2 linked regions of the Homo sapiens genome follow. The protein of the gene in region 1 interacts with the protein of each later gene in a biochemical or structural test. Each region holds a gene or a part of one and is shown on either strand. Other genes may lie near its edges.

What was found. Proteins that work in one complex are often made in the same cells at the same time.
Region 2: of the proteins of MAPK14 (region 1) and MEF2A, one has a biochemical effect on the other in vitro, tested with the Homo sapiens proteins (2 studies listed by BioGRID).

Annotation. Positions count from the first base shown.
Region 1 is NC_000006.12:36,030,658-36,034,307, forward strand, and holds part of MAPK14 (mitogen-activated protein kinase 14), read left to right. Parts: intron 1-3,650. UniProt on the Homo sapiens protein: Serine/threonine kinase which acts as an essential component of the MAP kinase signal transduction pathway.
Region 2 is NC_000015.10:99,708,944-99,712,593, reverse strand, and holds part of MEF2A (myocyte-specific enhancer factor 2A), read right to left. Parts: intron 1,961-3,650; coding exon 1,834-1,960; intron 205-1,833; coding exon 1-204. UniProt on the Homo sapiens protein: Transcriptional activator which binds specifically to the MEF2 element, 5'-YTA[AT](4)TAR-3', found in numerous muscle-specific genes. Also involved in the activation of numerous growth factor- and stress-induced genes.

The sequences.
Region 1 (3,650 bases):
GCCTGGGCGAAAGTGCGAGACGCCGTCTCAAAAAAAAAAAAAAAAAAGATATTCAGTGAAAAGTCTCCTTTCCTTTTTGTTCTCCAGCCACTCTACTCTCTCAAAGACAGGCACTGTTAAGTGTCTTGTGTCTTTCCAGAGAGGCAGTTTTTTTTATTTGCTTGTTTGTTTAGTAGTCTTTCTACTAAAGGGATTTAAGATGTAACCTACAGCATATTGGTGAAAGAAAATACAACTGAAACTGAAATTGTATGACAATTGACAATAAACAAATTATAACTAATGTTGGAATGAAAATACCAGAATTTAGATTTACAATTAAGTGTTATCTTATTCAGAGATTCAGCGTAGTTATTTGAAGTTTTTCTTTTCTTTGAGACGAAGTCTCACTCTGTCGCCCAGGCTTGAGTGCAGTGGTGCCATCTTGGCTCACTGCAACTTCCACCTCCTGGGTTCAAGCGATTCTCCTGCCTCAGCCTCCCTAGTAGCTGGGACTACAGGTGCCCGCCACCATACCCAGCTAATTTTTGTATTTTTAGTAGAGACGGGGTTCTCCATGTTGGCCAGGCTGGTCTCAGACTCCTGACCTCAAGTGATCTGCTCTCCTTGGCCTCCCAAAGTGCTGGGATTATAGGCCTCAGCCACGGTGCCCAGCCTGAAGTTGTTCTTTCAATGAGTACCTTTTTAGGTGTGGCAGAAAACATTTTTTGGAACTTCTTTTAGAATCCACTTTGGAGCCTGTGATATTCTTCTTCTTTTTTATTTTGAGACAGAGTCTCATTCTGTTGTCCAAGTTGGAGTGCAGTGGCACCATCTCTGCTCACTATAACCTCCACCTCATGGGTTCAAGCGATTCTCCTGCCTTAGGCTCCCAAGTAGCTGGGATACAAGTGCGCAACACCATGCCCGGATGATTTTTGTATTTTTAATACAGACAGGGTTTCACCATGTTGGCCAGGCTGATCTCTAACTCCTGACCTCAGGTGATCCACTTGCCTTGGCCTCCCAAAGTGCTGAGATTACAGGGGTGAGCCACCGTCTCTGGCCATCCATCTTCATTTTTTTGAGAGCAGATTTGATTTTAGGGAATAACAGTTCATTTGAATCCAAATAATTTAGGGAATTTGGACTCAAGTCTGATAAGAAAGATAAGGCAATCAGGTTGGTGATACTACTGTTTTAGGTCAGATAGGAGTTATAACTATAAAGTAACAACACATAATTTTTTGTGTGACTTCTTGAACTGGACCTGAAGTCTACTTCCAAAAAAATCTCCGAATTTTATTTTATTTATTTATTTATTTTGTAGAGATAGGGTCTTACTGTGTTGCCCAGGTTGGTCTCAAACTCCTGGCCTCAAGCAGTTCCCCCACCTTGGCCTCCCGAAGTGCTGGGATTATAGGGATGAGCCACCACACCCAGCCCCTGAATTTTATTTTCAAGAATGAAAATAAATGAATAGAATATTTCAATGAATAAAATTCATTCATTGAAATATTTGTCAGTTTCCGAATTTTATTGCTCTAAAGTGTGGTATACTTTGTAACATTTACAAATTATTTTAAGCCTATATTATTTTAATTTATACTAAGTATAGTAAAAAAACAAGTAGAAGCCTGTGTGATAACCAACTATGAATCAAAATAGAGTTTTACAAATATGCCTTTCCGTTAAAGGGTAAAGGGAACTAGACTAGGTCTTGCAGTTTTAAGGAACTTTATGCATTGTCTGTGAGGGGAAATGAAGCAAAATTGTTTAAGAATACATTGTTGCAAAGCATTGATTTTGGGGTTTTGGGACAGAAGGGGAGAATCTTTGTGGTGAGTTTAAGGAAATACAAACAGGAACTTAAGTGCCTTTCCTCTGGGGTAGGGTTCTTCCAGGCCCTTGCTGTTGATTAGAGGAGGTGGGACACTGGTAACCATGAAATAGGAGGTGACAGTTGAGAATTACTCTTAGATCTTATTCAACTGTTTATTCAACAGTGTTTATTGAATACCTACCATGGGCCAGATAGCTAGGTTCTGGAAATAGAGTGCTAAACAAGACAGAAACAAGACAATCCATTCTCTCCTGGAACTTACAGCCTAGTGGGTTTAATAACTACATTTTGTGGATTGCTTGCTATGTTCTAGCATTGTGCTGTGCACTTTATCATCAGCATAAAAAGTATATAACAAAACCTTTGGTAAAAGGATAGCAAAACTTGCTAAGAAATCAAATACAACTTCCTAAGTGCTTTGTGGAACAAGATTATTCTAGTATAAAAGAAATAAGTGAAGCTAACTTTTTTTAACTATTAATGGCCATTCACCATTTTAAATCTATTTTTTTTTTTTTTTAGAATGAGCCAGGGCACAAAGAAATAAAAGTGCATGATTATTAAGTATACAAGGGTGACTTTCTTGACTCCTGACCAGTGAGAAGGGTGTGCCCTTTACTTTTCTAGTAGTGATAGTAGGTCCATGCTGAGCTTTCCATTCTTTTCTTTGTAACCAAAAGTAAGGTAGTTGCCTGTATGTTACCAGTGCCAGTCAATAAGAAGTCTTTAAACATAATTAACGGCAAGCATTTGTATTATTGATGTATAAAGATTGTTTTAAGAAAGAGTTCATTCGAAGCTGGCTATAAAGTCATTTTATTATCAAATCCCATTTTTCCACTTTTTTTTTTTTTTGAGACGGAGTCTTGCTGTGTTGCCCAGGCTGGGGCGCAGTGGTGCAATCTCGGCTCACGGCAGCCTCTGCCTCCCGAGTTCAAGCAATTCTCCTGCCTCAGCCTCCTGAATAGCTGAGATTACAAGTGCGTGCCACCATGCCTGGCTGATTTTTGTATTTTTAGTAGAGACGGGGTTTTACCATGTTGGTCAGGCCAGTCTCGAACTCCTGACCTTGTGATCTGCCCACCTTGGCCTCCCAAAGTGCTGGGATTACAGGAATGAGCCACCACACCCAGCCTCCACTGGTTCTTCTTTAAAATAAGCTTATCCTGGATCTCCAGGTTTTCAGTTCTGCCAGTTTGATTTCTTGATACTGAGGAGTACTCTGCTTTTGATTTCTTTCTAGCCCAGTCTCAGAGATGATGTGTTGACTTTGCCTTTCATGGGCAAGAGTGCAGATATTGCTGAGCCCCTGGGGCCTAGAATTCAAAGATGGAAGAATTCACTGGGGTAGATCACCCTCACTTTAGAATTAACTGACATTTTTAGGGATTTTTGCAGTTTATAAAGTGTTTTCATTCAAAGCATTATCAATCAGTTCTCACTAGCTCCATGGAGGCTCATATTTATTAACTCCATTTTATAGATGGGGAGCTGGACTCATTCATTAAAGGAATGGCATACTTGTCAATGCTACTTTTAGTAGTCTCCTTTCTGATAGATGTGGGCTGCTGAGGTTGCGCGGTGGCACCTTCTCTTATGCAGTTAACCTCCTCTTGTGAAAAAGGGGTTGCTGAGTCACTCGGAATAGAGCTTGAGTGTAGGAAAGCAGTTCCACCAGTGTCATTGCCCAGTTTATGTGAGGGGTAATGACTTAACCCATTTAACCCATTAGAGTCATGTCTCTTCCTCAGAACTGATAAATCAAAAATGCACTCATTGCCCAGATTAAAATTTTTTCTGAAGGAATTATTAGGCAGTGCAAATAGTT
Region 2 (3,650 bases), on another chromosome or scaffold:
TCCTGTCGGGGCTGGGGCTGCGGGGGTTGTGGCTGGGGCTGCGGTGGTGGCGGCGGCTGCTGCTGCTGCTGCTGCTGCTGCTGCTGCTGGAAGCCCGATGGGGTCATACGATCCCGAGGAGGTGAAATCGGTTCGGACTTGATGCTGATGTTTTGGTTGGTATTAATGGATAAATTGGAACCCTGAGATAACTGCCCTCCAGCACTGAAGGAAAAAAAAGAGAGAGGTCAGATGGCTTGCAAGTACCTCTGCAAAACTGGGATGATACAGTAGAGACACTGCCTGATGGAAAAGGGCCCAGAGTCTGAAATCTTATCAGAGTTCCCCAAGACTGGTTTGGGTCGTTTCCTTCAGTGCTTGGCACAAAAGGAAATCCCATCTTCCTAGGAGGAAAGAAAACAGTACCGTTGAGCCCTTACGTTACTTGGTTCTGTTACCCACAACGTTGGTACTTTTGCAGCTAAAGTATACAAAACAATGTCAGTGTCTTAATGCTGTGCAGGGACCAGAAAGACAGAGGAACAGCAGCCTCATCTGCTCACCGCCTCTTCTTCCTCAGCATCTGCTCCCCATCTGCTCTGGCCCTGTGACAGGGCACAACATCGCTCATCCTCGCAACACCTCTAAGGTGCAAGTCGCACCATCCCCATTTTCCAGATGAGGAAATGAGGGGCTGGCTGAGAGCAGTAGAGGAGGACGCAAACAGGCTGTTCCCCGGGCCTGGGCTCTGAGCCCTTTCCACTTGCTTTTCCAGGACTATTTTTAGTGCATTCATTTAGGATGCTCAGGACAGGCCTGAGGGCCAAATCCTGTGTAGGCAAATTTCCCTGAGATACTCTGCTGCTTTTTCCATGACATAATTCCTAAGAAGACCACTGACAACAATCCTCACTGTGCAGTTACTTCAGAATGGATGAGGGAAAGGGACTGCTGAGCTCAGGCTCTCTGGGGACTTCCTGGGCAGAGGCTAGGGGCCTGGGGTATTCCTACTGCCCAGAGCACAGGCAAGGCAGCCAGTCTTCATGGAGGCCAGCTGGGTCTGCTATGTTGTCCCCTCTCTTGGGACACTCTCCTCCAACTGCTCCATGGGTCTGCTGTCATCCTGGTTCCACAAAAGCCCTGTTCTTTCTCCCGGCTGTCAGGGATGTCTGGCCTCATCTGGGCGCCACTGTAAATCCTCTTTGCTTATATCCTTACACCCTGCCCATACGGAACATTCTCTTTGTGAATGAGGTTTGGTGTGTGCATTGGGCTGGGATCAGTCACACAAATCCTATGGAGCCTGACTGATATATAAGACACCCTGTCCCCAGTTTTCCTTCCCTGTGGCCCAGGGAGAAAGCAAAAGCTCCAGCTTGTCTTCCTATTCTTGTCTACAGATACTCACCAAAGCAGTCAATGGCAAGGGTGGCAGGGAGGCCTGAATGCCTACAGGCTGCCTTTCAAGCAGTGCAGCCAGAGGCAGGTGCTTGGGAGCAGGGGTGCAGTAGGCAGCTTCATCACTGGTCAGAGGGCAGAAGGATGGTGCATGCGGGTGGTATCTGTGCCTTCAGACCCCTTCAGATCCTGGTTGAGTCTCTCTACCTCAGGATGTCCCTATGGGAGAAGCCTTGCTCCCCAAATCCCTTCAAGGAATGCCTAGTTTGTCAGTATCCAAGCTACTGTCTAGAGCCATGTAAGAAAATATTTTCTCCCGACACTTGTATCTACCTGAAAAGGAATCATTACAGGATTCCTCACACGAAACTCAACAGAGCAAAAGGCTGTCACTGATAGGAAAAGAGAGTGTGTAGGCCAGGAGTAAAGATGCAGGGAAAACTTCTAGTTACTCACACAAGAGAGCTGAGGGCTGCTTGTCCTAGGTGGTGCTGCTGCCAGGCCGACACCTGTCCCAGCGACAGCATTCCTGGCGAGTTGAAGCCTTGAAGGGCTGACAGGTCAGCGCTGGTCAGTGAATAATCTACAAAGGAAGACAAGAGGGCTCTGCATATGATGGAAGGTCCATACGGAATCTATTTTTTACGTAGCTACTGCAAAAGTTCCTACATTGAGGCCAGCCATGCTGGCTCATGCCAGTAATCCCAGCACTTTGGGAGGCCAAGATGGGCGGATCACTTGAGGTCAGGAGTTTGAGACCAGCCTGGACAACATGGTGAAACCCCGTATCTGCTAAAAATACAAAAATTATCCAGGCGTGGTGGCGCATGCCTGTAGTCCCAGCTACTTGGGAGGCTGAGGCAGGAGAACTGCTTGAACCCGGGAGGCAGAGGCTGCAGTGAGCCGAGGTAGCACCACTGCACTCCATCCAGCCTGGGCAACAGACTTCCTCTCAAAAAAAAATAAAATAAAAAGTTCCTACATTGAGAGAAGCCAGATACTTCACAACAAAACAACATACATGTGGGTCTAAAATCCGCAAAATCTTTTCTTGGAAGATTTACAGGATCTAGCAATATTTCTTTGTCTGGGATGATTCAAATAAGAGGCCATCATTAAAGAGTGTTCTGTACAATTGTTACTTTAAATATGCCTGCCACTACCCTTTGGAACAAAGAGAAACACTCAACCTCAACCAGAGTGAGTTTGAATCAGCAAGTCTTAATGAAGCAAGGGGTTGGGGGACAGGGAATAGGGGACAGGAAAGACAGAATCCCTACATGGGGTGCCAAGCTCAGTGACATCATTACACAATTAGTAAGCGCATTTGTTTAAAGTACCTAGACTGTCGCAAACTCCCTGACAGCATGCAAGAGTTTCAACTTCATGAAAAAACTCGGTGTCCTAGAGTATACCCAGCTCATATCATATGAATGCTTCAGTCGTAATCACTGGGACCAAGATTTAGGACGTTAGTTATCACTCACACGGGGAGTTATTTCAGCTCATCATTAACACTTGTCTTTCTCACTTGGTTCCAAAGAGAGGTGGCAAAACTCTTCTACTTTTATCTTCTTTCTCATGTCTCAAGAGAGGTGTTTAAAGAAATTGGTCTTCCTAGTGAATTAACATTTTAAAAAAGGAACGGAGTTGAAGCGACACAGCTGGTGCTCAGGGCTGTCCTGACTCTGCCCTTGTCATTCTATACACTCCCATGGGCTGGGGCAAGGACCCGTCACACTGACGCCTTCCCCAGTGCTCCCTCCGGCCCACAGTCTCCTTCGACCTCTAGATCTTTTAAACGACCTAGTGCCATGTCCATTTGGACGCCACTCCAAACGCCACACATCTGACATGGCCCATCCTTTCCTGCAAACCTGTTCCTCCTTAAGTACTCTTAGTACATGGCACCAACATGCACCCAGCAGCTCGTGCAGAAGCCCATGGGTGTTATCCTTGCTACTTCCCTTCCCTCTCACTCCCAACATCAATTTCCAGGTCTGAGCAATTCTATCTGCTCTCTCTCAAGCCTGCCCAGGTCTCACCATCTCTACTGCCACCTCTCTAGTCTATGCTATCAGCACCCATTGCTTGGACCACTACAGTAGCCTCTGATGTGGCTTCCTGGCATTGCCTTTTAACCCTATATACAGCAAAGACATCTTTTTAAAATAACAAATATGGTCATGGCACTCCTCTACTTCAAAAGTTTTTTATGGCTCCCCAATGCTCTCCGGACAGTTTCCAAAATCCTTGACATAGTCTACAAATCA